Homo sapiens: one gene and its partners. The protein of the gene in region 3 purifies or fractionates together with the protein of the main gene of each other region. This does not show direct contact. Each region holds a gene or a part of one and is shown on either strand. Other genes may lie near its edges. The genes, in order: ITIH3, GALC, CST7 and POTEE.

The links.
Region 1: the proteins of CST7 (region 3) and ITIH3 purify together in Homo sapiens (affinity purification with mass spectrometry; 2 studies listed by BioGRID and IntAct, with this or other methods). This does not show direct contact.
Region 2: the proteins of CST7 (region 3) and GALC purify together in Homo sapiens (affinity purification with mass spectrometry; 2 studies listed by BioGRID and IntAct, with this or other methods). This does not show direct contact.
Region 4: the proteins of CST7 (region 3) and POTEE purify together in Homo sapiens (affinity purification with mass spectrometry; 2 studies listed by BioGRID and IntAct, with this or other methods). This does not show direct contact.

The regions. Positions count from the first base shown.
Region 1 is NC_000003.12:52,790,289-52,798,020, forward strand, and holds the start of ITIH3 (inter-alpha-trypsin inhibitor heavy chain H3 isoform 4 preproprotein), read left to right. Parts: upstream 1-4,507; 5' UTR 4,508-4,515; coding exon 4,516-4,608; intron 4,609-5,314; coding exon 5,315-5,335; intron 5,336-6,192; coding exon 6,193-6,359; intron 6,360-6,450; coding exon 6,451-6,555; intron 6,556-6,816; coding exon 6,817-6,979; intron 6,980-7,528; coding exon 7,529-7,642; intron 7,643-7,732. Other genes in the region: ITIH1 (inter-alpha-trypsin inhibitor heavy chain H1 isoform a preproprotein), read left to right, coding at 461-633, 1,229-1,340, 1,494-1,623. UniProt on the Homo sapiens protein: May act as a carrier of hyaluronan in serum or as a binding protein between hyaluronan and other matrix protein, including those on cell surfaces in tissues to regulate the localization, synthesis and degradation of hyaluronan which are essential to cells undergoing biological processes.
Region 2 is NC_000014.9:87,982,978-87,990,416, reverse strand, and holds part of GALC (galactocerebrosidase isoform a precursor), read left to right. Parts: intron 1-1,893; coding exon 1,894-1,962; intron 1,963-2,209; coding exon 2,210-2,273; intron 2,274-3,344; exon of another isoform or gene 3,345-3,448; intron 3,449-3,814; coding exon 3,815-3,928; intron 3,929-5,883; coding exon 5,884-6,023; intron 6,024-7,439. UniProt on the Homo sapiens protein: Hydrolyzes the galactose ester bonds of glycolipids such as galactosylceramide and galactosylsphingosine.
Region 3 is NC_000020.11:24,944,233-24,952,406, forward strand, and holds the start of CST7 (cystatin-F precursor), read left to right. Parts: upstream 1-5,036; 5' UTR 5,037-5,273; coding exon 5,274-5,343; intron 5,344-8,174. UniProt on the Homo sapiens protein: Inhibits papain and cathepsin L but with affinities lower than other cystatins. May play a role in immune regulation through inhibition of a unique target in the hematopoietic system.
Region 4 is NC_000002.12:131,226,129-131,233,567, forward strand, and holds part of POTEE (POTE ankyrin domain family member E), read left to right. Parts: intron 1-694; coding exon 695-801; intron 802-2,115; coding exon 2,116-2,253; intron 2,254-4,707; coding exon 4,708-4,778; intron 4,779-7,439.

The DNA of each region.
Region 1 (7,732 bases), on a different chromosome or scaffold from region 3:
TTCAACAAACTGTGCCAAGCACCAGAGCAATGCTGGGCAGCAGAGCTATAGGAAGAGGTGGGGAGAGTCTGCTGTGGAGGTCACAGGTGATGAGTGGGAGTCACAGAACACGGACTCTGATATTAGACAGCCTGAAGTCCAAGTCCTGGCTCCACTGCTTACCAGCTGTGCTACCTTGGGCAAGTTACTTAACCTCTCTGAGCCTGGGACTTCACAGGCTCGGAGTGAGGATTGAATGATGCAGTTTGCACAGAGGGCTTAGCACAGGACCTGGCACATTGCAAGGGCCCCAAGCAACATGTGGGGAGGGGCGTGGAACAGGTAACAGCCGGCCATCTGGGGATGAAGGCCATGGGGTGGGGGCGTGGTCATAAGGGTTGGGTCCCAGATGACAAGGGCAGCTGAATGGAGAGGGATGCAGTGCAGCCGCACCTGCCCTCTCGGCCACCTGGCTCTGCAGGGTGGTGGTGACCATCAACAAGAAGAGGAACCTGGTGGTGTCTGTGGACGACGGTGGCACCTTTGAGGTTGTTTTGCACCGAGTGTGGAAGGGGAGCTCGGTCCACCAGGACTTCCTGGGCTTCTATGTGCTGGACAGTCATCGGATGTCAGCCCGGACGCACGGGCTGCTGGGTACGGCTGGCCAGGCTGGCAGGGCTGTGGGGAAGGGTGTTGAAGCCAGAGGACATGTGGGACCTGGGGCCACCGGTCAGTTCTATAGCTGGGCACCAGGACAGGCCCACCTCCAGTGTGGCCTCCAAGGAGCAGAGCCGTCTGAGGGGCTGTGTTGGTGAGGCTGTGAGCAAACACACAGTGAAACAAACGCTTAAGCGAGCCTGGGAGCAAGTGAGGGGCAGAGGTCTGATCGCAAAAAGAAAGGCCCAGAGGGTTCCCAGGAACCTTGTGAGTAGGGTGGGTCACTGACCACACTGCTCCTGTGTGGCCTTTCTACAGACACTGCTCTCTATGGGCACCTGCCCTCAAACCTCTCTCCCCAGACAGATCCCGTTTTAAAAGACAGGAGGTAGGACCACCTAGAAATGTATCTACTTCTCTATAGCAAGTGAACCAAAGGTAGCTTTTCATGCTGGGACTGTTAGCAGAAACAGTCAAGCCCTGGAAAAAAAGCGGTCCAGCAATGCTCTAACCCCGCAGTGAGCACCTGCTGAGTGCAGGGCAGGAGCAAGTCCCCGAGATGGTAACCGCTGTCTCCAATGTGCCTTTCTAGGGCAATTTTTCCACCCCATCGGTTTTGAAGTGTCTGACATCCACCCAGGCTCTGACCCCACAAAGCCAGATGCCACGATGGTGGTGAGGAACCGCCGGCTCACGGTCACCAGGTGGGTGGGCTGCTTGCCCAGCACGTCTGCCCTCGGCCACTTTGTAGTTCTTCCAGGTCTTCCTCCAGGTGTCACATGGGTGGGGTGAGCTTCCTGGGGAGGTGCTGCCCTACTGGTCCGAAGGGTGACCCCAGCTGACTTGTCTCTGCACAGGGGTTTGCAAAAAGACTACAGCAAGGACCCGTGGCATGGGGCCGAGGTGTCCTGCTGGTTCATTCACAACAATGGGGCTGGACTCATCGATGGTGCCTACACTGATTATATCGTCCCCGACATCTTCTGAGCCCTCTGGCCAGCACGCCTGTCCTCCCCCGGGGCCAAGGCAGAGGAGGAGGACGACATCCTGACCTGCTGCTGAGGCTGTACCTCCTTGACTAAGCTGGTTCCTTGTGTCAAAGCACCTCATGCCTTCCATTAAAGAGAGGCCGTGTCCACCCTGAGCTGGCTGATTTTGGGGAGGGAGGATGGCAGGGAGGCAGCCCAAGATGCTGCCCCTCAGATGGACTAAGGGGTTACAACAGACCCAGGGAGAGGAGAAGCAGGTCAGAGGCTGGGAAGAAAGCTCACACCATTTCCCTGCTGAGGGTTTGTAACGTCTGGCAGCCAGGCTGGTATTTTCCAAAGGCAGAGATGGTCCCTGCCCAGAAGCTGTGATTTCAGGGGGCCAGGAGTGGCACCCTACCATCTCCTCATGTGAATGCCTGGAATTACCCCATCAGGGTCCCCTCCCTTGGCTTGACCTTGGGGCCCAGTCAAAACACAATGTCACAGGTGCAGGGAGGTGAGCCACACGTCAGAGAGCTCTGTGTGTGAATGCGCACAGGCCTCCACCCACTGCTTTCCAGAGGCTTTCTGCTTTTTCTTGCTAGTTTCTGTCCAGTTTCCACTATAAATGAGGCTCACAAGGGACCAGACAGAACAAGGACTGGTTTTGAGGGCCTGGATCAATAACACCAATGCTGAGCTCAAAGGCTGCCCCAGGCCCTATGAACACAGAGCCCCTAGCGGCAGGCTGTGGGGCGGCCAGCCCACCTTCCCAGGTATCCTGGGGTTCTCCAGGAAGAGCTGTGAGCTGCCAGCTGTCGGGGTCACCCTTGGCAAGGCCTGCCCAATGGGGGCCTCATCTCCCTCTCCTGTAGAATGGAAAGGCGGTGAACCCAAAGATCTCTTAGATTCCGTCTAATTATAAAGTCTGCATGACGACTCTGGTTCCTCCAAGTCCCCAGCCATCCCTTGAGGCTGCTTGAGCAGCTACAGAATCCCTATTTCGAGTTGTCCGTCTCCCCAAACTCCAGGCACTTGGGGATGAGGCAGTGGTCCAGATGAGAGAGTACAGGAGAAGCTCTGCAGGCAGCTGCAGGTCCGTGAGGAGGAGCCATTGGGCAACAGTGCCAGCCACCCAGTGCCAGCAGCCACAGGACTGAAAACATCCCAGAAGCCAGGAAATGAGGACACGGCAGCTCTGAGGGGTCTTCTCTCCACACCCAGGCGCCAGCACCTGCTGGGTTTGGCCTCCATCAGGCCCGAGCTTGGTGCCTGCTGCCAGTGAGGTTGGTGTAAGGGTTCAGGAGGCCCGAGGGAAACAGGCACCGCCCAGCCAGACACCAAGCACAGGCAGCATCTGCCACTTGGCCATCATTTCACTGGCTTGGAAACTCCCTCTTTTCAATTTTTTTTTTTTTTTTTGAGACGGGGGTCTCGCCCTGTCATCCGGGCTGGAGCGCAGTGGCACGAACACAGCGCTCACTGCAGCCTCGAACTCCTGGGCCCAGGTGATCCTCCAGCTTCAGTCTCCCAAAAAGCTGGGATTACAGGCAAGAGCCATAGTGCCTGGCTGATTTGGCAACTCTCCATCATTGCTCTGTGGCTGCTGCCTCTTCCAGCCATTAGACCACACCCTCCTCAGGGCTTCCGCTGCCCCGTGGCATCTGCCTTTTGCCTTCTTGGTTCCTCTGCTCCCAACAACTCTCTCTGCACATCTCCCAGTCAGCACCAGAGCTTTCAGCTGAGGCCGCTGAACTCCCCATAAGTTAGTTGTCCTGGACCCAGCCGTCCTTGTCGACTCCATTCAGTAGTGGGCTGCCCAGTGGGAGGGTCACAGGGTCAGCTTGGCTCAGAGAAGCCATGGGTATGGTGGGTGTGCAACAGCTGCCCTGATGGGGCTAGGCTGGCAGGGTCCTGAGGTGGCTCAGGAGGTCCCAGCCCCCACTGAGACCAGGTCCTGCCTCTAAAGCTCCTGTTGTCCTGGAAGCTGGAGCCCAGCCTCACTACGACTTTTAGGGCAATGACTCCCCAAAAGGCTGAGGGCAGCCAAGTCCCTGGCTGGGCCCTGGAAGCACAGAGGGAAACATGACATGGTCCAGCCCCCAGGAGCTCTGGGTGCAGAGGGGGCAGGCAGACCTGAGCACATCCACCTCAACATAAGGTCATGACAAAGCAGGCCCTCAGGGGGCTTGGGGCTTGGAGCAGGGATGTCCCATAGTCCTCTAGGGGATGGCCAGGGAAGGGTCCTGGAGGGGAGGCACTGGGACTGGCAGAGAGATGAAAGATGTGACATGTGCAGAAGGGGAGGGTGTGCTGGTGCAAGAGAGTGAGCTCAGAAAAACAAGCTGGGGTCAGATCACAGAGACAGCTGGGCTTCCGGGATCGTTGTGTGTCCTTTCCCTGGGGCTTTGGGGGCCATAGAAGGGTAGTGAGCGAGGGGCTCTGCTGTGGAGGTCCCAGCCTGAAGGTGACAGTCTAGTTTCACGCCCTGGCTGCCTCAAGAAGGGAGGGGCTGCAATCCAGGAGGCCAGAGAGAGGCTGTCCCAGTGGTAGGGATAAGAGGCAACAATGCTGAGATGCCCTTTGCCCTAAATGCAACTCCACACCCCATCTCCATCATCCACGCCAGGGAGTCCCAGGGTCCATTTGTTGGCCCACAGCTTCTGCTTTCCTGCGGGCCTCTTCCGAGTCCCCCGGTCTCTCAGGAATGAAGCCCCAACGCTGTTGGCAAGACCCACCAGGCCTTCTTCAGACAGACACATCGAGGGACCCGTCATTCCACCCATGCCCAGCTTCCCGGAGGCCCTTCCTGCCTCCACTCCTCCCACCCCCGCTGCAGGTCACTGACCCTGCTTGGAAAACACCAGGCTTGCTCATATAAGGAGCGTGGGCCAGGCCTGAGTATTCAGCGATGGCATTTGCATGGTGGCCCTGTCTCATCTTGGCTCTGCTCTCCAGCTTGGCAGCCTCTGGCTTCCCGAGAAGCCCCTTTCGGCTGCTTGGGGTGAGTCTGCCCCCTCTTTGCCATCTGGGTCTTGGTGTGGAATGGGCAGAAGGCATCATGCTGGGCAAGGCCTCTGAGTGGAGTGAAGAGGAGGCAGAGGGCTGGGCACTGAGCTGCTGGGAGTAGTGTGGACACTGGGAGAACCGGGCTCCAGCTGAGGCCTATGCTAACCTGTTGTCTAACCCTGGGAAGGCTCTTAAAACTCCCTGGGCCTCAGCTTCCCCACCTGTCAAAAGAGCAATGCACCAGGAACTGCTCACTTCACTGAGGGGCAATGAAGGTTCAAGTCTCAAACGAGTGTGACCTCTACAAAATGCTCAGTTGAGCCCTGCGGGGTGTGGCGGGGGCAGGGGTGCTCTGGAAGGAGGCCTAAAGGGGCCTGGGGGCCAGGGAAAGGCAGAATGGGAGATAGAATGAGGTGGGGCATGTAGGGTGTGAAGAGAGCTCTGGGTTCAGTTCCCCCTGCCCTGCTCTCCTGGTAACCTGGATACCTGCCCCTCTCTGGACCTCAGTTTCCCCATCTATTCAGAGTTTTTCCTACTCTGACATGTGGCTCTGGAGGGTCCTATGTCTGGGGGCCACTCAGGTGTGTGGGGGGCAGGGCACCACTGAACCCCTGGTCTCAGCCCAGAGCCTCCCAGGCCATGCGGCCTTGGTGTTGGCCTTGGCCTGATTCCTGTGTTTGTGTTTGTTTTTGTTTTTTCAGAAACGGAGCCTCCCGGAAGGGGTAAGAACTTTCACCAGGGGGTGGGACCGAGTGGGGCAGGGCAGGATGGAGCTGGTTCCCCAACTGCTGAAGGTGTAGGCTATAACAGCTGACTCCTCACAGCTGGCAAACAGCTTACGGCCCTCTGCCCTGGCAGCCTCCAACAGCGCAGGACTCCTGGGAAAGAGCACCACAGAGTGACGACCCCTCCAACCTCGCAGGATGTAGCCCAAGAGGGCCCCTCACAGGCATCCCTTCCTTCCGCAGACACTTCCTTAGCACTTGCTGGTACCTGGCTCTGTGAAGCGGTCCCTGCCACACCCTCACGAAGCATCTTTATATCCCTAGGGGGAGGGGGCTGGAACACCTCCCTAGAGCCTCTCAAAATTCAACACCCCTATTGGAAAGAGGGTGTTTGGAGACTTCCCTTGGCACAGGAAATCAGTTCCTCTTTGGGAGACAGAATGAGGCAATTACCTAAAGACCCAGGAGGTGGGCTGGGCTGTGTGCTTGAGGGAGTGTGAGGTGTGGAGGATGAGCAGGAAGAGCCAGGGGCAGATGCTCCAGAGCCAGTGTCCCACGCATAGCTGGAGCTCAGGGTGACTGGACGGGAAAGGGCAAGCTCTCACTGGCTGCAGTGGTGTGTAAACGGATCGCAGAATTAAGGAGGCAGGACAAGCATCTGAATAATGGTGGCCACCAGAACATGGAGACTGGAGACGCCACCAAGTCTTCCAGTGTAGAAGACCTGGAGGATGAGGGTTGCGTGCCGGGCAGGGGCCTCAGAGCCTCCAAGGGTTTGCAAGGGAGGTGGCTGGGTTGCAAACCTGCTTCTCCAGTGTCCCAGTCTGGCTGATTCTCCACCCACCTCCCCAAAGGTGGCCAATGGCATCGAGGTCTACAGTACCAAAATCAACTCCAAGGTGACCTCCCGTTTTGCTCACAATGTTGTCACCATGAGAGCCGTCAACCGTGCAGACACGGCCAAGGAGGTTTCCTTTGATGTGGAGCTGCCCAAGACGGCCTTCATCACCAACTTCACCTTGTGGGTACCACCATGGCTGCTGGCTCTGGGCTCGGGAACAGGGGGTCTGGCCCAGTGTGATCTCCCTACCCCCAACTCTCTTTCCCTGCAGGACCATCGACGGTGTTACCTACCCTGGGAATGTCAAGGAGAAGGAAGTTGCCAAGAAGCAGTATGAAAAGGCTGTGTCCCAGGGCAAGACGGCCGGCTTGGTCAAGTAAGTATGGACTCCCAGGCCTTGGGGAGAATGTCTGGGATCCAAGGGCCTTCAGGGCTACAAACAACAACAACAGCTATTATTATTGGTATAGCAAAATGTGCCCATAATTTTGCCATTATCCCACGTTGAGGCTGAGGCAAGTGAGGCTCAGAATGGTTAGGGATCTCCCTCGCCAAAGGGCTGGGCCTGGGGCCGAGGGCCGAGGAAGGGTGGGCTCCTGCAGTCTTTGAGGGAGTCACCATCTCGCACCCTGGTCAGGGCCTCTGGGAGGAAGTTGGAGAAGTTCACAGTCTCGGTCAACGTGGCTGCAGGCAGCAAAGTCACCTTCGAGCTAACCTACGAGGAGCTGCTGAAGAGGCACAAGGGCAAGTACGAGATGTACCTCAAGGTCCAGCCTAAGCAACTGGTCAAACACTTTGAGGTAATCAACCGCCCCTGCAGACCTGGGGGGACGGCAGCGGGGTGCAGGAACCCGCCCATGGGGCAGTCTCAGACAGGGGTCAAAAACAAAAGTTCTGCCTCACGGCATCCCCCATCCTTGGCTGGGAAGGCTGGAGGAATTCAATGGTTCTGGCCAAAAGCATCTGGGGCCAAGGGGAAGAGGCTGGGATGGACTCCACAGATGCAGATTCGGTGCTGGGCCCTCAAGAGCAACACCAGCAAGTGCCTCTGTAAGGCTTCTCACTGGGCACATGGGCATTTTTCCTACCTCAAAGCTGAAAGCCAAAGGAAAAGCATCAGTGGTGGAATTTCGGGCGCATATGGCAGGCGGTGGTAACACCTCCCGATCAGCATACTCTCCTCCAAGCCCCTGTGGTCACTTTCGCAGTGGGAGACACCAGGCTTGGCCCTCAGCACTGTCCTAGAGGGTCCCTGCATCACCACAGACCCATCTCATTCCCATTGGCCTTGTTCTGGGAACTGGCCTCTGAGGTCACTGAGTGACATTTCCTTACTTTGGCCATTTCAGATCGAGGTAGACATCTTCGAGCCTCAGGGAATCAGCATGCTGGATGCTGAGGCCTCTTTCATCACCAACGACCTCCTGGGAAGCGCCCTCACCAAGTCCTTCTCAGGGAAAAAGGTGATGTAGATGCCTCTCAGACCTGGTGGGGCAGGGGACAGGAATACTGACTCCAGCAGAACAAGCCTGCAGCCTAGGGCTTAGCTGCTG
Region 2 (7,439 bases), on a different chromosome or scaffold from region 3:
TCTAATTTTAGTCTTACAGCAGTTGAATGAGTAAGATAGCCCACTTTACAATAATTTGCCTATGATTACATAGCTTATTAATGATGAAATCAGGATACAAACTCCATTTGACTCAAAGACTCCTATTTATGTTGCCAGTACCAGTGCAACAAAAGACCCATAAAATATTTAATAAGTGTTTATTGAATAACAAAGAATGAGGATACAAACTTGAATAAGATACAGTCCATGTCCTTAAGGAACTAAGAGGTGAGTCAGAAAAATAAAGGAGTGCCGGGGTTCAAAGTGTTGTAATAAAGATATGGACCTGGTGCCAAAGGAGAGGCGCTTACATCAAATCAGTGAGCAGGGCCAGAAGGCATCCTTCCTTCAAATTCCAGAGGTGGAATTTGAGCTGAAAGGTGAATTGGAGTTGTCCAAGAGAGGATGTGGGGTGCATTCCAGGCATAAGAATAGAAAACGTTGTTTGATACATCTAGGTAGAAGGTGTGAGAGTGATAAGGGATAAAGTATCAGGGTTAGGAGCCAAATAATTAAGGGATTTGGGTGCAAAATTGAGCGATTTGAACTTTATCCTGAAAGCTTTTGGGAAAGGGACGGTCTTAGCATGTTTACATGGAAGAGTTTCGTGATTACATTTGTATTTTGGGAAGGTTACTCTCGTAAGTAGCATGGAAGATAGAATACAGGGAGAGGCAGAAGGGATGTCCTGAGACCACTTATACTGTTCTCATAAGTGAGGAGGGCCTGGGTAAGTCAGTGGGGTTGAAGAGTAGAGGAGGGATTTGAGAGCTATTGAGGATATCTTGGTGACTGAGGGTACATGGGAAGTTTGGACAAAAGGTGGCCCAAGTTTATGGTTTCGGCAAGTGTTGGTTACTGAGACAGCAAGTTCAGGAAAAGGAGCAGATACATGCAAAAGTGCTATGTTTGGTTTGGGATATATTGAGGTAGATGGAAAGAGTGGCTAGAGAGCAGCTCCATGGGTGTTTGCCTCACTGGTAGGGACTGGGGATGTTTTGGGTGTGACAGAGTAGATATGGGCACTTACCAGAATGTCAGTGGTAGCATATATGAGAATATAAAATAGAAAGTTGAACCCCATAAAAGTATTTTGTCCCAACCATCATACATACACCTGGCAAAGTGTCAGCAGTTTGAACCTAGGACTGTCTGGTTTACAAGCCTGAGGCTACTGTTTCATGCCAAAAACCGGCCTCTTTTTATTTATTTTTTGCTTATATTGCCTCCCAAAGGATAGATTATGGGTCAGTTACTGGTTTTGTGATTTCTTTTTTCAAATAGTTGTATGCCGTGGTCCAGGCATGATCCAGTATTGGTCCCTGCGCTGTCTACCCTTGTCTTTCCATGCATTCTGATGCCACTCTTGTGTTAAGTTTTCTTAGTACAGCCTGGTCTGGAGATTATTGCTAGTTATTCTTAATAGTAACAGGTAGAATTTATGAGGATGGGGAAAGTAGTGCTTCCTTTCAGCATTGCTGCTTGTGATGTTTTTCCGGAAGATGTTAAGGGGAAAAATTACCTGACATTCATCCCTCCCATTTTAGTCCTGAGATATTGTTGTCAAGTGGTCTCAAGATAGAAAACCTGAGTTTCAAGATAAGTTTGTGATCATGAGGTTAGCAAGCTTACCTCCCAGTTAGCCCTCATGCCAGAAGAAGAGAACTTTTTTAGCTGTCGGACAGACAGCAGCCCTACTTGCCCAATGATTGGCACAGAAAGGGCAGACAGACAACTTGTGAGGAACTTTTCCTCAGCCTGACCTTGCCTGAGGCTAAATATGTGTATACCAGGTGGTGTGCGTGAACACTGTAGACAGATATTCATGACTGGATTTCTTTTATTCATACTTTTGAAAACTTTTTTTTTTAGGCAACCTCCCGACTTCTAGTAAATTACCCAGAGCCCTATCGTTCTCAGATATTGGATTATCTCTTTAAGGTAATGAAAACATAATTATTTCATGGTACCTGTGATATTTTAGAAATTGGATGGTGAATTTCACCATAGAATTTATTAGCCTCACAATTCTAGTTTTTGAAAAAATGGCACATTACTTTTGGAATAAATTGCTATTTGAAGTTTTGCTTTTGTTTTTGCGTCTGTAAAACCTAAGGCAGTAATTAGTAATTGTCTTGAAGCTTCATACAATACAACACTATGTTAATACTGTTACTTCTTTTCACAGCCGAATTTTGGTGCCTCTTTGCATATTTTAAAAGTGGAAATAGGTGGTGATGGGCAGACAACAGGTAGGAGAATTTGGGAGATAGGATTTCTCCCATCAACATTTTAATCTATACCTCAGCATATGGACTGTGATTTCAGAATATGTGTAAACAATACCAACACTTTTGAGATTGATTGTTGCTTATTAGAGTTTTCCTCATTTTTTAACTGTAATTATTTAAAAATATTATATAGAATATGACTGGTCCATCAAAAACAATATTCAAACTTCAAATTGCTTATTTAGTTGAAGTAATCGGTAGTAAACAAATCCACAGTTTTCTAAAACCTATATATACAGGACAGAGCATAGGGACAGTTTTGAATTTTATTGAGCAGTTAGAAAGATTTTAATTTCGTATAGAACAAAAAAAGTGTTATTAACTTAAAATATGTGGTAAAAATGATACAGCTTTTTTTTCTTTTAAAAACAAAACTTATCTTTAATCACTAAATCTTCAGTCTTCATTGTCACTATTTTGATTGGCTTTATGTAGTCCATGTTATCAACTGGCAGTTTATAGGCCTTTTGTTTCCAGGAAGAAGAAAAGAAATTCTCTCTATGATTAGATATAGCTTATTATTTACAGAACAGATTCCATTATAATGAACTCTAGAGTATTACTTGTATTCCTGCTAGTGATTTGGAAGTAACTCTTTGTTGAACAGATATGTCTATGTGGTGGTATTAGTGTTTATGTTGAAGAAAAAGTGCAAAGCAAAAACAAAAGAAACCCCCATAACAGAAACTTTCTTCAAGCTATTGCGTTTTACTGTTAAAACCTTTTAGGCAGAATTGACAATGATGGACTAATTTCACTTGCTGAAGCTAAATTAGAGGTAGAGGTACATAAACAGGCAGTTCTTGTGAATTCTGATGTTTACCTTTAAGAAGAAATGGGCAAGGGCCTCTCGGAAGGCCCTACTTAGCAAGGGCAGATGTTGGTGAACTGTGGGAATATACGAGGACTTTGATAGCAATTACCTACCTCAGTGCTAAGACAATGTAACCTCTACTAACTGCAGATGTTAGTATAGAATTTTGTTATTTTTAGAGTGGATATGTATACTCATTCCTTTTTTTTTCCTCAAAACTCTTCCTATATCAAGACATATTATAGGCTAAAGGTGTGGGTTCTGAGAACAGGGCTCACGAGTCCAGGGATTCATATCCAGCGTTGAAAAGCTGAAAGTTGAGGTAATCAGAACTTAAAGTTGGACATGGGGATTTGAAAACTACAGAGAGATCAAAAGCCCAGAAGCATGAATACTGGGAATTTTTAGTTATATGAGGTGATAACATTTCTCTCAGTACTGCTTGTAATAGAAGGTTGTGGTTTTATTAAGACTTTTACAATGCTTAAGATAATAAAAAAAGGATGAAATGATATGCTTTTATCATCCATCCTTTAGTTGTGTAAGATTATGATTTCCCCAACTTCAGGATTAGAACTGGAATACTGCTTTTGTGAAGTGTGTGTCTGGGGTGGGGGTGGGGAGTGAGATGGTCCTAGGAAGTACCATTCATGGATCATTACTTCCGTTTTTGCTCTCCTCTATTCAGACGGCACTGAGCCCTCCCACATGCATTATGCACTAGATGAGAATTATTTCCGAGGATACGAGTGGTGGTTGATGAAAGAAGCTAAGAAGAGGAATCCCAATATTACACTCATTGGTAAGAAATGAAGTTTGCAATGTTTCTTCAGTCTCTTTTCCTTTAACTTTTAAATTCTGAATCGTGTTGGTGGAATCTCTATTAATACGGAAGTACTCATAATGTCATTAATGCTACCAGTATGCTACCAGCAGCAAAGCATGTGCCAGGGGTGATCCTTTCTTTGCCCTTGTATATTATGTTGAATCCTTATAATACCTGTGGAGTAAGGCATGACTCTTTCCATTTTCCAGGAAGAAGCAGTAGAAGCTTAGGAAGATTATGCCACTGACCTAAGGTCATAGACAGTTAGTAAATGGCAAAATCGGTGTTAGCACCTAATTCCATGTTTCCTATGATGCTAAACTACTTTCCTTCACAAGATCTGTCATCAGTATTTATAAAAGGGTAACACTGTTCACAAAAATGTATATTACATGCAGTAGTACACCTAACTAGTTACAAAATTGTATATTGCATGTAGTAGTGAACCCTATTTTTAGAAAAGGTACATACAAAAGTGTTTTTTGTTTATTAGTTAGTTTTTGAACTTCAATAATGTGCTGGTTACTGTTCTGGGACTCAGGAAGCCAATCCCGTCCCCAATTCCTGCACCTGTGGGGCTTAGGTTCTATTGGGAGGATCATTGGCTAGTTGCTTAAATGGGACTATGTACATTTCACAGTTCTGTGAGAATGTGTACAGAGCTTGTGAAGTATTTCAAACATCAAGAGTGATGGGATACTTTCATCATTTGAAATGAATTTGATTTTTTGAAACAGGCTTAAATTCAAACTAAGTTAAATGAAATTAATGATTCATTTTAAAGACCTGATTTCTAGTTATTTAAAAAATAATTTTCTCAACAATCAGGTTAATGAAAAGTAATATTTTCTAAGTTAAAAGAAATTAGGAGTAAGTATGTTCTTTATAAATGGGCTTTTGTAAGAGATTCCAGAAATGCTGTGAGCAGTAAAAGCATCACTGAATTCAGCACATATCCACTAGACTGCTTCCAAGGTCAGACCTCATTTAAATGTAGAAAATATGGCATGCTAAACCATGTCCTAACAAAGACTTGGTAGGCCTTCAGATTGCATTTAGCATTTCATTGTTTTCAAGAATTCTATTACTTTAATGTCACATTTCTTATGTAATACACTTGGGTGTTCCTCCTGAGTTTAGAAAATAAGCATTTTGTCATTTTGATTTTTATTTTTTTCAGTGGTGAACTAGTTTGGTAATATATTTATTGCTGAGGAACTTAACTATTGAGCCTATTTTAATATATTAGTAGCAAGTTAAATTTAGAATTATAATAAGTACTTTTCTACTCTTCTTATTTTTTTACTTAAACATAATCAGGATTATTGGAAGAATATGGACTTATTTGATGTGTATCACTTAACAAGGGTATATTTCTCTATGGAGTCATTGTCATTTATAGTGATATAAGAACAAACTAGTTTTGCTAAATTAGATTGCCTGACTGATTAATATTTTAAGGACCCTAAATTGTAAGAAGATGTACAATTGAATGATAAATTTGTGTTATACATAACTCAAGAGTAGTTTGGCATAAGCCTTTTAGAATTCTTTGATTTGACCTCAAAGAACAGAAGTTGAATATTGAACATTCCAACAGTGAGTGGACATGTTAAGTTAAAACATATGGTACATTTCTTTCTATTGGTAAGGGTCTTGGAGAGAGGTGTTTGTATTTGTTATTTTTCTTCTTCTTGGAAAGAACATTTGAAATTATGGGACCTGACTCTAGGGATCAATAAGGAATTATAGTGTCTATAGATTGGAAAGGATTTCAATAATTTTTATATGGTATATAAACTTTCCTTTAGTCAGATCTGTATTGGTTTTTTGCTAGTTGAATGCTTTTCTTAAAAAAAATTTGTTTTATTTTCAATAGCGCCAGCACCGTTATACCTCCTCTACCTTTGCCTCCTCCCTTCTCTCTGCAGGGTTGCCATGGTCATTCCCTGGATGGCTGGGAAAAGGTTTCGACTGGCCTTATGTCAATCTTCAGCTGACTGCCTATTATGTCGTGACCTGGATTGTGGGCGCCAAGCGTTACCATGATTTGGACATTGATTATATTGGAGTTAGTAATATATTTAAAATATGATTCAGTTTTGGACATTTGTTTGTAATTTAGAAAATAATTTGATTCTGTGGTACTTTTTGACTAACCATTTTATGCCATGAGGCTAATTTGTTCTAATGGTGTCTGATAATAACACAAACTAAGTACCTGTGACCTTTAATTGCTCCCCTTTGCCCATCCCAGTGTTCCCACTTTTGAAAACTGTGTTGAGTGTATACCTCCTTCCTCTGAGCTGGGTTTTTTTTTTTTTTTTTTGTATCAACCCAACTCAAATTCTCCTTCAAAGCTTTCCCTGCTTTCTCTGGTTCCTACAACAGTGTTGTGTTTCCTATACAGCTTATGGGGGGTTAGTCTCATTTTATCCTCTTGTTGTCTTAAGCCAAAGATTGGCAAACTTTTTATTAAAGGGCCAGAGCATAAATAGTTTTGGGTTTGTGGGCCAAAAGGCAATATTGAGGATCTTGAGGTAAATATATAGCCATTTAAAATGTAACTATTTAAAACTAAAAACACTTTTAGCTCTCAAGTTGTAAAATTACAGATGATGGGCCAGATTTGGCAGGCTGGCTGAAATCTGCGTTCACCTGTCACAAACTGTTAGTTAACACCTTTTAAGGATTTGAAAAGTATGAAAAATGATATCATGTCCAGCTTGTCTCTTGGCTGGGTGGAGGCATGCCCCAGGCTGCATCGTACCCCACAGGGCCTTAACACACACATAGTGGGTCTCCATAATCATTTGCTTATTAATATACCATCAGTTAAAACTAATACTTAAACATTTTCATGCAATCATGACTTAGATTATCAGCAAACAATTATTGAGTTCCTACTGTGTTGCAGGAACTGTGACTGTAATATTTGAGGGCTACTAAGATTAATAAGCTCTTGTGTTCAGTAAGAGAAGTAGATGCTGGAACATATAAACTGTAATACTACATGATGATACAGGGCATGAGGATGAGCCAAGGGCTGGAGGAAGTCAGAAGAAAGAATATACTAGTTTTTGCTATCCTTTTCCAAATTATGACTGAAAAATTAGTTTATATTTGAGAACTTTCCTTTTTTTTTTACACTGTCACCCGGATTGGAGTGCAGTGTTGTGATCTTGGCTCACTGCAACCTCTGCCTCCTGGGTTCAAGTGATTCTCCTGCCTCAAGTAGCTGGGATTACAGGCACCCGCCACCACACCCAGCTAGTTTTTTTTTCTTTTTATTAGAGACGGGGTTTCACTATGTTGGCCAGGCTGGTCTCAAACTCCTGACCTCGTGATCCGCCCGCCTCGGCCTCCCAAAGTGCTGGGATTACAGGAATGAGCCACCACGCCTGGCCGGAGAACTTTCTTAAATGTCAGGACATTTATAACCTGTAGTGAGACTAAATGTAGGTTTGGTCTAATAGCTTTCTCTTAT
Region 3 (8,174 bases):
AAAGGAATGAAAAGGAATAAACAAAGCCTCCAAGAAATATGGGACTATGTGAAAAGACCAAATCTACATTTGATTGGTGTACCTGAAAGTGACAGGGAGAATGGAACCAAGCTGGAAAACACTCTTCAGGATATTATCCAGGATAACTGCCCCAACCTAGCAAGACAGGCCAACATTCAAATTCAGGAAATATAGACAACACCACAAAGATACTCCTTGAGAACAGCAGCCCCAAGACACATAATCATCAGATTCACCAAGCTTGAAATGAAGGAAAAATGTTAAGGGCAGCCAGAGAGAAAGGTTGGGTTACCCACAAAGGAAAACCCATCAGACTAACAGCAGATCTCTCTGCAGAAACCCTACAAGCCAGAAGACAGTGGGGGCCAATATTCAACATTCTTAAAGAAAAGAATTTTCAACCCAGAATTGCATATCCAGCCAAACTAAGCTTCATAAGTGAAGGAGAAATAAAATCCTTTACAGACAAGCAAATGCTGGGAGATTTTGTCACCACCAGGCCTGCCTTACAAGAGCTCCTGAAGGAAGCACTAAACATGGAAAGGAACAGCTGGTACCAGCCACTGCAAAAACATATCAAATTGTAAAGACCATTGACACGATGAAGAAACTGCATCAACTCATGGGCAAAATAACCAGCTAGCATCATAATGACAAGATCAAAATCATAATAATAATATTAACCATAAATGTAAATGGGCTAAATGCCCCAATTAAAAGACACAGACTGGCAAATTGAATGGAGTCAAGACTCATTGGTGTGCTGTGTTCAGGAGACCCATCTCACATGCGAAGACACAAATAGGCTCAAAATAAATACATGGAGGAATATTTACCAAGCAAATGGAAACCAAAAACAAAGCAAGGGTTGCAATCCTAGTCTCTGATAAAACAGACTTCAAACCAACAAAGATCAAAAACGACAAAGAAGGGTATTACATAATGGTAAAGGTATTAATTCAACAAGAAGAACTAACTATCCTAAATATACATGCACCCAATACAGAAGCACCTACATTCATAAAGCAAGTTCTTAGAGACCTACAAAGAGACCTACACTCCCACACAATAATAATGGGAGATTTTAACACCCTGTCAATATTATAACAATGAGACAGAAAATTAATAAGGATATTCAGGATTTGAACTAAGCTCTGGACCATGCAGACCTAATAGACATCTACAGAACTCTCCACCCCAAATCAACAGAATATACATTCTTCTCAGCATCTCATTGCACTTATTCTAAAATTGACCACATAATTGGAAGTAAAACACTCCTCAGCAAATACTAAAGAATGGAAGTCATAACAAACAGTCTCTCAGACCACAGTGCAATCAAATTAGAACTCAGGATTAAGAAACTCACTCAAACCTGAACAACTACATGGAAACTGAACAACCTGCTCCTGAATGACTACTGCGTACATAATGAAATTAAGGCAGAAATAAAGATGTTCTCTGAAACCAATCAGAACAAAGACACAATGTACCAGAATCTCTAGGACACATTTATAGCAGTGTGTAGAGGGAAATTTATAGCACTAAATGCCCACAAGAGAAAGCAGGAAAGATCTAAAATTGACACCCTAACATCACAAGTAAAAGAACTAAAGAAGCATGAGCAAACAAATTCAAAAGCTAGCAGAAGACAAGAAATAACTAAGATCAGAGCAGAACTGAAAGTGATAGAGACATGAAAAACCTTTCAAAAAATCAATGAATCAAGGAGCTGGTGTTTTGAAGAGATCAACAAAATAGATAGACCACTAGCAAGACTAATAAAGAAGAAAAGAGAGAAGAATCAAATAGATGCAATAAAAAATGATAAAGGGGATATCACCAGTGATCCCATAGAAATACAAACTACCATCAGAGAATACTGTAAATGCCTCTAAACTAATAAACTAGAAAATCTAGAAGAAATGGGTAAATTCCTGGACACACACACCCTCCCAAGTCTAAACCAGGAAGAAGTCGAATCCCTGAATCGATCAATAACAAGTTCTGAAATTGAGGCAGTAATTAATAGCCTACCAACCAAAAAAAAGTCCAGGACCAGATGGATTCACAGCTGAATTCTACCAGAGGTACAAAGAGGCGCTGCTACCATTCCTTCTGAAACTATTCCAAACAAGAGAAAAAGAGGGAATCCTCCCTAACTCATTTTATGAGGCCAGCATCATCCTAATACCAAAACCTGGCAGAAACACAACAAAAAGAAAATTTCAGGCCAATATCCCTGATGTCCCATCAATGTGAAAATCCTCAATAAAATATGGCAAACTGAATCCAGCAGCACATCAAAACTTATCCACCATGATCAAGTCAGCTTCATACCTGGAATGCAAGGCTGGTTCAACATATGCAAATCAATAAACGTAATCCAGCATATAAACAGAACCAATGAGAAAAACCACATGATTATCTTAATAGATGCAGAAAAGGCCTTCAACAAAATTCAACACCCCTTCATGCTAAAAACTCTGAATAAAGTAGGTTTTGATGAACTGTATCTTAAAATAATAAGAGCTATTTATGACAAACCCACAGCCAATATCATACTGAATGGACAAAAACTTGAAGCATTCCCTTTGAAAACTGGCACAAGACTAGGATGCCCTCTCTCACCACTCCTATTCAACATAGTGTTGGAAGTTCTGGCCAGGGCAATTAGGCAGGAGAAGGAAATAAAGAGTATTCAAATAGGAAAAGAGGGAGTCAAATTGTCTCTGTTTGCAGATGACATGACTGTATATTTAGAAAACCCCATCATCTCAGCCCAAAATCTCCACAAGCTGATAAGCAACTTCAGCAAAGTCTCAGGATACAAAATCAATGTGCAAAAATCACAAACATTCCTATACACCAATAATAGACAAACAGAGAGTGAAATTATAAGTGAACTCCCATTCACAATTGCTACAAAGAGAATAAAATACCTAGGAATACAACTTACAAGGGATGTGAAGGACCTCTTCAAGGAGAACTACAAACCACTGTTCAAGGAAATAAGAGAGGATACAAATAAATGGAAAAACATTCCATGCTCATGGATAGGAAGAATCAATGTTGTGAAAATGGCCATACTGCCCAAAGTAATTTATAGATTCAGTGATATCCCCCATCAAGCTATCATTGACTTTCTTCACAGAATTGGAAAAAACTACTTTAAAGTTCATAGGGAACCAAAAAAGAGCCTGCATAGCCAAGACAATCCTAAGCAAAAAGAACAAAGCTGGAGGCATCATGCTATCTGACTTCAAACCATACTACAAGCCTACAGTAACCAAAACAGCATGGTACTGGTACCAAAACAGATATATAGACCAATGGAACAGAACAGAAGCCCAGAAATAACACCACACATCAACAACCACCTGATCTTTGACAAACCTGACTAAAACAACCAATGGGGAAAGGATTCCCTATTTAATAAATGGTGTTGGGAAAACTGGCTAGCCATTTGCAGAAAACTGAAACTGGACCCCTTCCTTACACCTTATACAAAAATTAACTCAACATGGATTAAGGACTTAAGACCTAAAACCATAAAAACCCTAGAAGAAAACCTAGGCAGTACCATTCAGGACATAGGCATGGGCAAAGACTTCATGACTAAAACACCAAAAGGAATAGCAACAAAAGCCAAAATTGATAAATGGGACCTAATTAAACTAATGAACTTCCACACAGCAAAAGAAACTGTCATCAGAGTGAACAGGCAACCTACAGAATGGGAGAAAATTTTTGCAATATATCCATTTGACAAAGAGCTAATGTCGAGAATCTACAAGGAACTTAAACAATTGACAAGAAAAAAACAACCCCATCAAAAATTGGGTGAAGGATATGAACAGACACTAAAAAGAAGACATTTATGCAGCCAAGAAACATATGAAAAAACGCTCATCATCACTGGTCATTAGAGAAATGCAAATCAAAACCACAATGAGGTACCATCTCATGCCAGTTAGAATGGTGATCGTTAAAAAGTCAGGAAGCAACAGATGCTGGAGAGGATGTGGAGAAATAGGAACGCTTTTACACTGTTGGTGGGAGTGTAAATTAGTTCAACCATTGTGGAAGACAGTGTGGTGATTCCTCAAGGATCTAGAACCAGAAATACCATTTGACCCAGCAATTTCATTACTGGGTATATACTCAAAAATCATTCTACTATAAAGACACATGCACACGTATGTTTACTGCAGCACTAGTCACAATAGCAAAGACTTGGAACCAACCCAAATGCCCATCAATGGTAGACTGGATAAAGAAAATGTGGCACATATACACCATGGAATACTATGCAGCCATAAAAAAGATGAGTTCATGTCCTTTGCAGGGACATGGATGAAGCTGGAAACCATCATTCTCAGCAAACTAACACAAGAACAGAAAACCAAACACCGCATGTTCTCATTCATAGGTGGGAGTTGAACAATGAGAACACATGGACACAGGGAGGGGAACATCACACACCAAGGACTATCTGGGGATCCGGGGCCAGGGGAGGGATAGCATTTGGAGAAATACCTAATGTAGATGATGGGTTGATGGGTGCAGCAAACCACCATGGCACGTGTATACCTATGTAACAAACCTGCATGTTCTGCACATGTACCCCAGAACTTAAGTAATTAAAAGAAAAAGGAAAATCAAGTGATTTTGCTTTTGAAAATTCCTGCTAATGTTTTTCATGCAACATCTCTTTCGTGTGTGGCTCAGGGGTAGAACATTGCATCAGGATTTGCTCATGGGTCTCATGTCTCTTCCTCCTCCCCCAGCAAATGACGGCTGCTCGGAAACTTTTATAAAGGAAGCGGTTGCTTTGTGGCTGATAGATCTGAAGGTGAAGAGCTTCTGGCCAAAATGATTCAGCAGCAAAACACTCCCCTCCCCAGCACCACGCAGGCAGCCCCCTAGCCCCGCCCCTGCCCCATCCCACAGTGGTTTGCAGGGTGGGGTTCCATGCTGTGGCCCTGGCACCTGCCCCTGGGCTGGGACAGCCCACTGTTCCATGCTGCCCAAGAAGGCTCAGCACAGGCACAAACCATTGCCCGGCACTGGCCCGTGCTGCCTGAGAAGGATTGGCACGGGCACAGACCACTGCCCCCACCTGCCCTGCGCCATCTACCCAAGAAGGCTCGGCACGGGCACCAACCACTGCCTCCAACTGCCCCATGCTGCCTGAGAAGGCACTGCACGGCCACCCCCAACTGCCCCGCACTGTCCCTACCCGGGCAGCCATGCGAGCGGCTGGAACTCTGCTGGCCTTCTGCTGCCTGGTCTTGAGCACCACTGGGGGCCCTTCCCCAGGTAAGTGGCGTTCTCCCCTGTCCGCTCCCCGGGGGTCTCTCCCTGAGATTGGCCACTGGTGCCTTGGGTCTTCCCCAGGGCACTTTCCTAGCTTGGAGCCCCCACAGGACCATGCGGTGGTGAGAGGTGCTGGGAGTGGTGAGAGGGGCAAGGGGCTCCATCTGGCTGCAGCTACCTTTGGGGGTAGCAGGCTACAGGGATGAAGGGTTTGGGGGCTGCCCCAGAAGGCTAGGGGCAAGGGAAGCATCTTCTATTCTCTGGCTCTTCACAGAGGTCTGAGAAAGGTCTAAGTAAGGCAGGTCTCCCGCAGCTCCTCTGCGGGACGGAGGCGACAGGGCAGCCACATGCCTGTGGTTAGCCGCTTCTATCTGATGGCTTGTCATTCCTTCCTGCTGGCTGTTGTCCTGTGACTTGGCTCCAGGGACCCTAACGATCAGACTCTTTCACCCTTCCTGAAATCCACTCCCTGAGGGTCAGCACTCAGGGGGAGGGGGGACAGGGAGGAAAGAGCCACTGCCTGTGCACTGGGAAACTGAGACACAGCCAGGCTAGGTGATTTGCCCAAGTCACACAGCCAGGGACAACCTGCTCTCCCCCAAAGGGAACTGGGCCATGGCCTCCCTGGCACAGGAATCAGACCAGGATACTGATGGGGACTTGGGAGGCCCCCACCTCATTTAACCAACCAGGAAGCTGGCACCAGAGGGCTGAGGTGACCCGCTCAAGTCATATGACCCCCACCCAGCAGACAGGGACAGAAGGGGGCTGGAGCCTGGCCAAAGGGGCCCAGGTGGGGGCTGTGCAGCAGGACCACTGACAAGAGGATGGCTCCAGAGCACCCAAGGGGTTCTTGGAGGGTTCTCACCTCCTCCTGGTGAGTCAGGATACTGAGGACTCAGTGATGCTGGGGGACACTGTGTCGAGCTCCCAGGCCTGGCCTAGGGCGGACGCTGCGACTGAGCAGCCAAGGGGACACGGCAGGCTGGAGGAGGGGCCGGGGGCAGCTTCTGCTCTCACTGATGGGAACATGCCACCGCCACCAGCTCTGGGTAGTGCTCAGCGAACATGGAGCTGACCCATGGCTGGCAGAAGGCTGGGGACAGCATACCCGGCCCTGCCTCCCAGCTTGGGAGCCTTCTTAGCTCACGCAAGGAGCCCTCCACCTGCTTCCCAGCCTCACAGGGGCCTCTCCTCCTGGCCCTGTCCTGATGCAGTGCTGCCTGCCTGCTGCCATTCTGTGCCCTGCCCCTTCGTGTCTCCAAGGTCCAAGGGGGAAGCAGGGAAGAGAGGCAAGTTCACTCCAGAGAAGTGGCTCGTTCTCACACCTCAGAAAAGGCTCTCCTGGAGGGGACATGGAGCCAGCTGTCCTAGCGTGTCCTGGGATCTAATTAAACCTACTGACTGCTGAGGGGTTTCAGAGCTCTGCTCATCTCACGGAGCAGGCTAGGGACTATAACAGGGTGGCGTGGGAGCCGATGTGCTGGGCAGCTGGCAACGTCATTTTCCTGGGTGGTGTTCCCGGCCCCTCGCTGGTATGTAATGCTGCACCAAGCCTTTCCCTCCATTCTCAGCAGACCTGCTGTCAGCCACCAAACCCCAGAGAGAAGCTCCAGAGCCCACGTTCACACACACAGAGCGGGCCCTCAGCCTCAGTCCTACCATCCATGAAATGGGAAGATAACTGCACCCCGTCTCCGGCCCTGGGGAGGCTGAACAGAGGTGGCTCGGGGAAGGCACAGGCATGGAGGCACATGGGGCATGGGGTGCTCTCCGCCAGCCTCAGCCCCCTGCTCTGTCTAGTGCAGGCCCTTCTGCCACTGTGCTGGTGACAGCCCCCAGCACCCTGCCCAGGCGCTGTGATCATTTCTGGTGCTTCCAGCAAGGGCCTTCAGTCTTCGGCTGTATAGGGAGGGTGCTGGGAGGCCCCCAGTCTAGCAGCAAAAAAGAGATGGGAACCTGGGCCCCAGACACAAGCATGCGTCCTGCCCCCACTCCACAACTCCTACAGCCCCTCCGCTGCCTCCTCTGAGAATAAATTACAGAGCCTTCCTCATGACTGAGGGGGGTAGGGGGCGGGGAAGCAACAGGGACCCCAAGGGTGGTGCCGTCTGAGCATCTGGCCTCTCTCCACACCCATGCACTGAACTGCACAGACCATAGCGCTGAGCCCCTCAGGGCACCTCTCCTCCCTGAGGCTTTCAGAACCTAGGAAATTGCCACACTGGCTTCCGCCACCCTTTTGAAAAGGGCTGTTTCTTTCTCAATCTGATGGGCATCTCTTCTGGGAAGCTCTGCCAGGTGCCATGTCATCCTCTGCCCCCTCCACTCTAGCTGCAACGGCCCATCTGCCTGGACAGGGGCCCTGGGGTCAGGGAGCCATTTCAGCTTCCCTCTGCAAGGTGATGTCAGTCCTTACTTCCCAGTAGCAGAGAGACCACTTGCAGCCCGGGGACCTCCTGCCTCCTGGGGAGCACTGGGAGCTGCCGCAGGCTGAGCCACCGTCTACGTGGCAAGATTTGTTTTTCCCAATGGGGGCATTCATTTGCCCTGAGACCCCTGCTGTGGCCATGTGCATTTTGATATATTGATAATGATTACAGTTTTGCACATCATTTATTGACAAGTGCTTCGTGTATGTTGCCTCATATATTCTCACTGTCGTCAGCATCCTCATTTTACAGGTGAGGACACGGAGGCTCAGAGAGGTTAGGCAGCTTGCCTGAGATCATACAGCCAGTGAGAAGCAGAGCTGGAATTCAAACTCCGGGTGTGTCCCAGTGGGTTAAGGTCGGGACTGATCTGGTAGAGCTCAGTGTCCTGTCTGTGCCAGG
Region 4 (7,439 bases), on a different chromosome or scaffold from region 3:
CCAGTGTGTCTCTTAAGTATGTAGAGCTTTGGCATAATCAGCATGGCAGTTTTAAACACTAAAAACCATGGAGTTATTAAGAATACAGATAGGAATTCTGTTAATTTAGTTTCAGTAGTCCTATGAACTGATGGTTTAGTTAACAATCTGGGAAAATTAAATACAAATAGATTTTAAATAAATAAATGTTGGAAAATTTTTTCAAATGGGCAGTATGAGTTTTAATAGCAATTTTTGTTGCATGTTGGAGGTTGAACTTTTGGTAAAACATGAAACTAAAGAAATATTTTACATGCAGATTCTTGCTTTATACACAATTTGTCTTAGGGTTGAGGATATAGAGACAAAAGATACAGCCCCTGCCCTCAAGAAGCTTTTTGTTTAGATGGGAAAAATATTATCATCCAATAACACCATGCCAAATGCTGGTTTAGAAGCAAAGAGCCTTGGAAGCAGTAAATGTTTAAAGTGAGTTTTTGAGATGATTAGAGTTACTGTGGTGAGGCAGAGAAGGGGTGTTTCCAAGGGAAGGAGCAGCGTGTGGGAAAGCACAGAAGAGTGAGAAGGAAGCGAGTACATTTTATTTACTTTCTATGCGTGTAAGTCCATAAGATCTTACATAAAGTTTCCACTTTGGTTGAGGAATATGTACTTTTTTGAATTACATAGGTTTTTGCTTTATATTGTTTTACAGCATGGCCTCACACCACTGTTACTTGGTGTACATGAGCAAAAACAGCAAGTCGTGAAATTTTTAATCAAGAAAAAAGCGAATTTAAATGCACTGGATAGATATGGAAGGTATAGTTCTTTCTTTTAATCTGTGTGTTCTAGATGGACAGCAGTCACTCAAGTCATAAATATTAAATTAATAAGATTAATGTATACTTACTGGGATGTAGTGATCAGTATCAACACAAATCAGTTAGGTAGAAAAACAATTACTTGGGCTGGGCAACATAAAGAACAGTTTTAGTAGGATTCATCTTCTCTTATTATATTGACTGATGTTATTTGTTATGTGACATTTTTGGTTACATGATCTTATGTTAGCTTAAAGGATTTCATATTAATTTTATGAAGTTTGAACTTTAACTTTTAGTTTACTTTATGACTCAGTATTGAACTTCTTAACCCTTTCTAATAGTTTTTAACCTGTGTCTTACATGCTTTTCCATTAAATCTGCTGTATTAAACATAAATAGGGGTTGAAAATCCTTTTGTCTTTTTAATGACTTTGCTTTAAGTTGCTTTCTTTGAAGAATATTAGTGTTAGCTTATCCCTACATGACAATTAATTGCTGTTCCCACATACTGTGGGTTCAACAGCTTTTTTCCTTTTGTTTTTCCAGTGTGTTTTGATGTTTTTATTTTTAATTGGTATGGAGAGAGGGAGTGAAGATAGTTTTAAGTGGATACACTTTTCCTTTAATGAAGACAAGCCGTACGTGGGTGATAAAGAGAAAAGAGCTAGGCTTTGGATTCACACAAGACTGGGTTTAATTAGTAACTTTCTTACTTGCTAGGTGTGTGACCTTGGGGACGTTATTTACCACCAAATATGTTGTCATATATGAAAAGTAGGAGAATATATCCTTCAAAGTTGGCTGTGCATAAGTAAGAAAGATACATGTGGCATTTAATTCAGTGCCTAGCACATGGTTATTGGCACCATTAACTGAAACTCCTATGACTACTATTCTTACCATTATTATTACTGCTTTGAGCATGCAGAGAGCTCTTATTTCTCTTACCCCCTAGCTGATTTTCTATTACAGCATGTCAGTCTAGGGAAGCTGTGACAAAATCTTCACTTAAATCTTTGTCCACCTCAGATAAGTGGCCCTAACATTGTTTCTTGCCCATCAAAGGACTTTAAATTAGTAGCTTCTGCTATGCAATACCCCACTGAGATAAGAGGGTTTTTTTTGGTCCCTTCCTTTTAACCTTGGTGGCATTTTACAAAGATGAACACTTGAGCACTCAAGATGCTTATGTCTTTTAGTGCATGTAAATGTTTGATTCTGCACAGACAGGCAAGATGTTACATTGGTAAAGTATATCAAATTAGCTTTAAAAATAACTTTATTACAGTTCCTATCTCTGTCATTTTAGGACTGCTCTCATACTTGCTGTATGTTGTGGATCAGCAAGTATAGTCAGCCTTCTACTTGAGCAAAATATTGATGTATCTTCTCAAGATCTATCTGGACAGACGGCCAGAGAGTATGCTGTTTCTAGTCATCATCATGTGTAAGTGTTTACATTAAAAGGCTAGTTAATGCTGAATTGAGGTTTAAAATAATTATAACAGTTGCATCTCACATATCAGGTGAGATGTCATAGTTTGGTTCAGGTAGTTTTCGCGTGGCAGTGAGTTAGTCCCCTGCATCAGCCAGAAATCAGACAAAAAGCAAGACAAGTTAGAAGTACCAATGGGTGCGGGATTCTTTATCTCAGGACTTTTAAGATCTTTATCCTTAGAGATCCCAGCATTGTTCATTTGATCCAAGTGTAACACCTATGCAGGGATAAAAAATAGTGTCACATCTTTAATTTTTCTGATTAGTTATTTGGGTCTTGAAATGTCTAGTTTAGCGGAAAGTCTTGTACTGTCTTCTGGGGACTATGTCCTACATACTCCTTGAATTTTTCAAGAACCGAAGGAGTTCACTAAATCCAAGGAAGACAGTCCCTTTTATCAAGTCAGAAGGAGGAGGAAAAAAGACATTGCAATCATTCTGTTGTTTCCGTTGATTTTGTTGCTGCTTTGTGGCCACTCAAACTGGTCCTGCTGCCTTAAGATGAATCAGTAGATTCAGATCCCTCAAGTCTTCATGGCGATTCATACAGTGACTTTGATGTTTTTTAATTCCCATACCTATGCTTATATGCTCAGCCATTGTTCCCAGAGCACCAGCCCCCTGCTCTGGCCGCTGGGCATCTTGACTTTATCCGCACACAAAGTGACCAAATTGACCCTTCCCCACATATTCAGAACCTAATGTGGAACCCACATCTTAGCCAGGAATTAGCTGAGACCTTCATGGTAAGAGATCCTTTGAGGCTGTTGTTGGTCTTTTCTCTGGCAGATGTTAGGTGGGCTTGTTCTAAAGGGTGAGAGGGGTTCAAATAATGTGGCAGAAAGAGGTCAGTGTTTGTTTCCTCTTTGCTACCAGATCTGTACTGTGAGGCACCTTTATATCCTGTATAGAACCCAGTAGAAAGTCCCATATGAACCTTGCCCTGAGCAGTGGCTCCCAGCTGTGGTTGGCCCCTTGAGTGATCTGATTTACATGATAATGAAAATTGTCGGAGCTACTTCCATCTCTAGCTCAAGATTTTAAGATATTTTCAAACTCTAGCTCACAGGAAGCCATTGAAGAGAATTCTCAGAATCTCAAGTAGGTTAGTTGGACTTCACAGAGCCAAGCCTTGTCCATGACGCATCACTAATCATGTGTAAAAGTAGGGCTTTGTGCTTGCTTCGGCGGCACATATCCTAAAATTGGAACAATACGGGGAAAGTTAGCATGGCTTCTGCATAAGGAGGCAGCACAGATCTTTGAAGCATTCCATATTTTGTGCAGTCACTGGAAGGTCATTTGACTATTTGCTGACTAGCTCTGAGGAAATAGTGTGAATCAAAGCAAAATGGGTGCCACCCAAATATTGAAATTGTGATTTGTGCTGCAAAAATAGTCATGTAAGATGGTCTATGAGATGACTTAGACCTGAATAACATGTTCGGTGCAAAATATATTGTTAGTATGTATGTCGAAAATTACAGAATGTCAGCTTGCTACTTCTCTGTGGAAACTAAAAAAAAATAAAAGTAGACTTTTGGTCTCCCATGTCAGCTGGAATTGAACATCAATATAAAGCATTATCCTAACAGACATCTACTGGCTGAGAGTTTGAGTCTGTAGAGAAGGATCGTTGGTCCAAGTCAGGTCTTAACATCCATTGGTTTTTCTGCCCTTGGTGTGATTGATCAACTCCGTAATAGTGGACAATCACATTATCTACTTTAATGAGATATTTATGAATAAATTTAGTTACAAACTATGACATAGTTGAGATGCCCTGAATTATAAGCCATAAAGAGTAGGACAACTAAGAAGCAAAATTAGGACTTAATAACATTTTCTGAAAACTACAACATTTGTATATTAGAACCTATGAACAAAATATGCATTGGGTTTTATTTGGGATTCCAAGATAATTTTAGTCATAAAGTTTAGGAACAGATTATTCCATTGCTTTACTATTTCTCTGAGCATTTAAAAAATGTTATCTCGTTAAACCTTTATAACAACCTAGTGAAATAAGGCAGCAAAGTCCTCACTTTGTTGAAGAAGACATTGAGCCTAAGAGAAGCAAGTTGTCCAAGAACAAATAGCTGTTCATTATGGAGCTAGGACTTATTTAGAGTTGGGACACTTTCTATTATGTCATGCTAATGCTAGCTAATTTACTGGGTCACAGTGCCCTCGATTTATGACTATTTCACCTTACATTTTTTTCTTCTTTAATTAGAAGCTTAAAGAGAAGTTTGTAGAATGTATTCATAAGTGGATGGGATAATACTATTAAGTTCTGTTATTCTGATATTGTTTGAAATACTCTTAATAATTCTACATTTGGTAAGTTTTTTTTATATCAGTATTAAAATAGTAATTTGGTTTATTACATTTTTATACATAGAATTTGCCAGTTACTTTCTGACTACAAAGAAAAACAGATGCTAAAAATCTCTTCTGAAAACAGCAATCCAGGTAAGACTTGTGATAGTGAATTACTTTAGTCAGTTGTCCCCAACCTTTTTGACACCAGGGACCGGTTTTGTGGAAGACAATTTTTCCATGGGCTGGGGGAGGGTGGGGATGGTTTCAGGATTATTCAATCATGTTACATTTATTGTGCTACTTTATATTATTATCACATTGTAATATATAATGAAATAATTATACAACTTACCATAATGTAGAATCCGTGGAAGCTCTGAACTTATTTTTCTGCAACTGGATGGTCTCATCTGGGGGCAAAGTGAGACAGTGACAGATCATCAGGCATTAGATTCTCATACGAAGCACACAACCTAGATCCCTCAGATGGGCAGTTCACAACAGGGTTCATGCTCCAATGAGTATCTAGTGCTATCACTGATCTGACTGGAGGCAGAGTACAGGCGGTAATATGAGCCATAAGGAGTGGCTGTAAATACAGATGAAGCTTCCCTGGCTTGCCTGCTGCTCACCTCCTCCTGTGTGGTGTGGTTCATAATAGTCCATGGACTGGTATGAGTCTGTGGCCTGGGAGTTGAGGACCCCTGCTTTGCGTGGTCCTACCATAGATAAAAAAGTAAAAGTAAGGAATTTTTGATCACAAAAGAACACTGAAGCACAAGTCATGTTACATATGCTTGTCCCAATAAGGTCTCACTATTACTGACTTCATTCCTCCTCATTTGAAGTTGGAAAGAGATATATTTACTTTGTTGGAACAAGATGTGTTCTTCTACCTGCTGGTTAATTGTCATCATAACAGTAATTTTGTTAGAACAAGATGCTCTGCTACCATTTGCCAAAAGATTGTCATAATAAATATACAAATTGCCCAACTCTAGGCTCAGCAGATTATAATAAAAGCAGAAAAACGTTTCACACTAACAAAAACGCTAGTATGCTACCTGGTTGTGGACACCTAATACATTTATAGTCCAAACTGTATGAGGACACCTTTAATTTAGCCATCTATTTATCAAAGAGCTTTTGTAAGTTAGGTTTTATAAGTTGCAGGAGACAAAGATGGAATAGATGTAGTTTTGATCTTTAAGGTGCTCATAATAGAGCTGTCTCCATTTCATTTCTGTGGTTTTTCAACAGAATTTACAAAGAAAACATTTCTATTTATGTTTTCACTTGTCCACTTAACATATAACTATCAAATGTCTTTTAGATAGTAACCATTTTTCTAATGCTATAGACCACAAACAATTAAAAATACAGACAGGAGCTTTTTGTTATCATTGTCATTTTCATTATTTTACTACTTTATTCAGTGCTTACTGTGTGCTAGATGCCCACTGGAAGCTTATAATTATGATTTATTATATATTGATTATGTGCCAGACATATGTGATGAGGAATGAAAGTTTTGGGAAAAAGTAGGTATGATTTAAGGTAAGCATGCAGAGAGAGAAGAATTTTTCTAGGTAAAGAAGCAGAAGAAGAATGTTTGGCAGAAGGAACATGCAGCGAGGTCGTGTGTTTGCCAGAAGGAACATCTAATGAGATTGCCTGTTTGGGAGGAAGAGCAGCAAGTGCAAAAGACAAGATGCTTGAGTGAACATGGCAGGGTTTCTGAGCAGTTCACTTTTGCTAGTACCAAAAGTGTGTGATACGAGAGGTTGGGAATGAGGTGAATACTTAGCTAAGGCAAGTTTATGATAGACTTTTTAATACTATAGAAATGAGTAGGTCTTATCCTGTGTGCCATGGGAAATTTACCGGGTAGAATGCTTTGGACTGCAAATACTAGATGAACAGTGGCTAAAACAGTAGGAACCAGAGTTGTTTTGGTTGTTCATTGATATCCTAGGATCCCACTTTTCCCTCTTTCAGCTGTGCTGTTGACAGTGTTTTATTCACGTCTCCCTTCATGGTTGGCTAATCCGCAGCAGCTCCAAACATCTTGTTCTCACAACACAACATCGCAAGGGCTGCTTTTCTTCACATGTGTCTTTTAAACAGGGAGAAAACTTAGAAGCATGCAAAGGGCTTCCTGTAACATTTCACTGGCTGGGTCACACCACATGCTCATTCCCAAACCAGGCACTGGGAAGGTAAATACCTGATTAGCTTAGAATAATCATTTCTGTTTCTGAGGCTGAGGAGGGGGATTGGGATAATAAATATCCCAATAGACTTGGATTTCTTCTTCAAGAAAGAATAAGGAATGGCTATTGATAGGGAGCCAACAATGTGTGCTGCAGGGGCTCATTGGAGAAATTTGAGCAGGGGAGTCATAAGATTAAATCTGAGTATTAAGGCATTCTGGTTATGGTGTAAAACGGGTTAGCAAGCTTTTTCTGTAAATGGCCAGTTGGGCAATATTTTAGACTATGTGGTCTCTGTCATATCTACTTAACCCTGCTGTTGTCTGCTGTTGTAGTGTGAAAGCCACCATGATTATATGTAAGCAAACAGGCATGACTGAGCTCCTATAAAACTTTATTTACAAAACCATAATGCAGATTGGATTTGGCCTGTGGCCTATAGTTTGCTGGGATTGATGGAAGGTTCTTTACCCTGTAAAGAAACCAGGAGACAAAGGAAGTTTTCGCAGTAGTCAGTTATAGTTTCCTTGTCATACATCCTTGGAGTAGCATCAATGTATTACAAGGTTTTCACCCGTCCTTAGTGAAATACATAAAG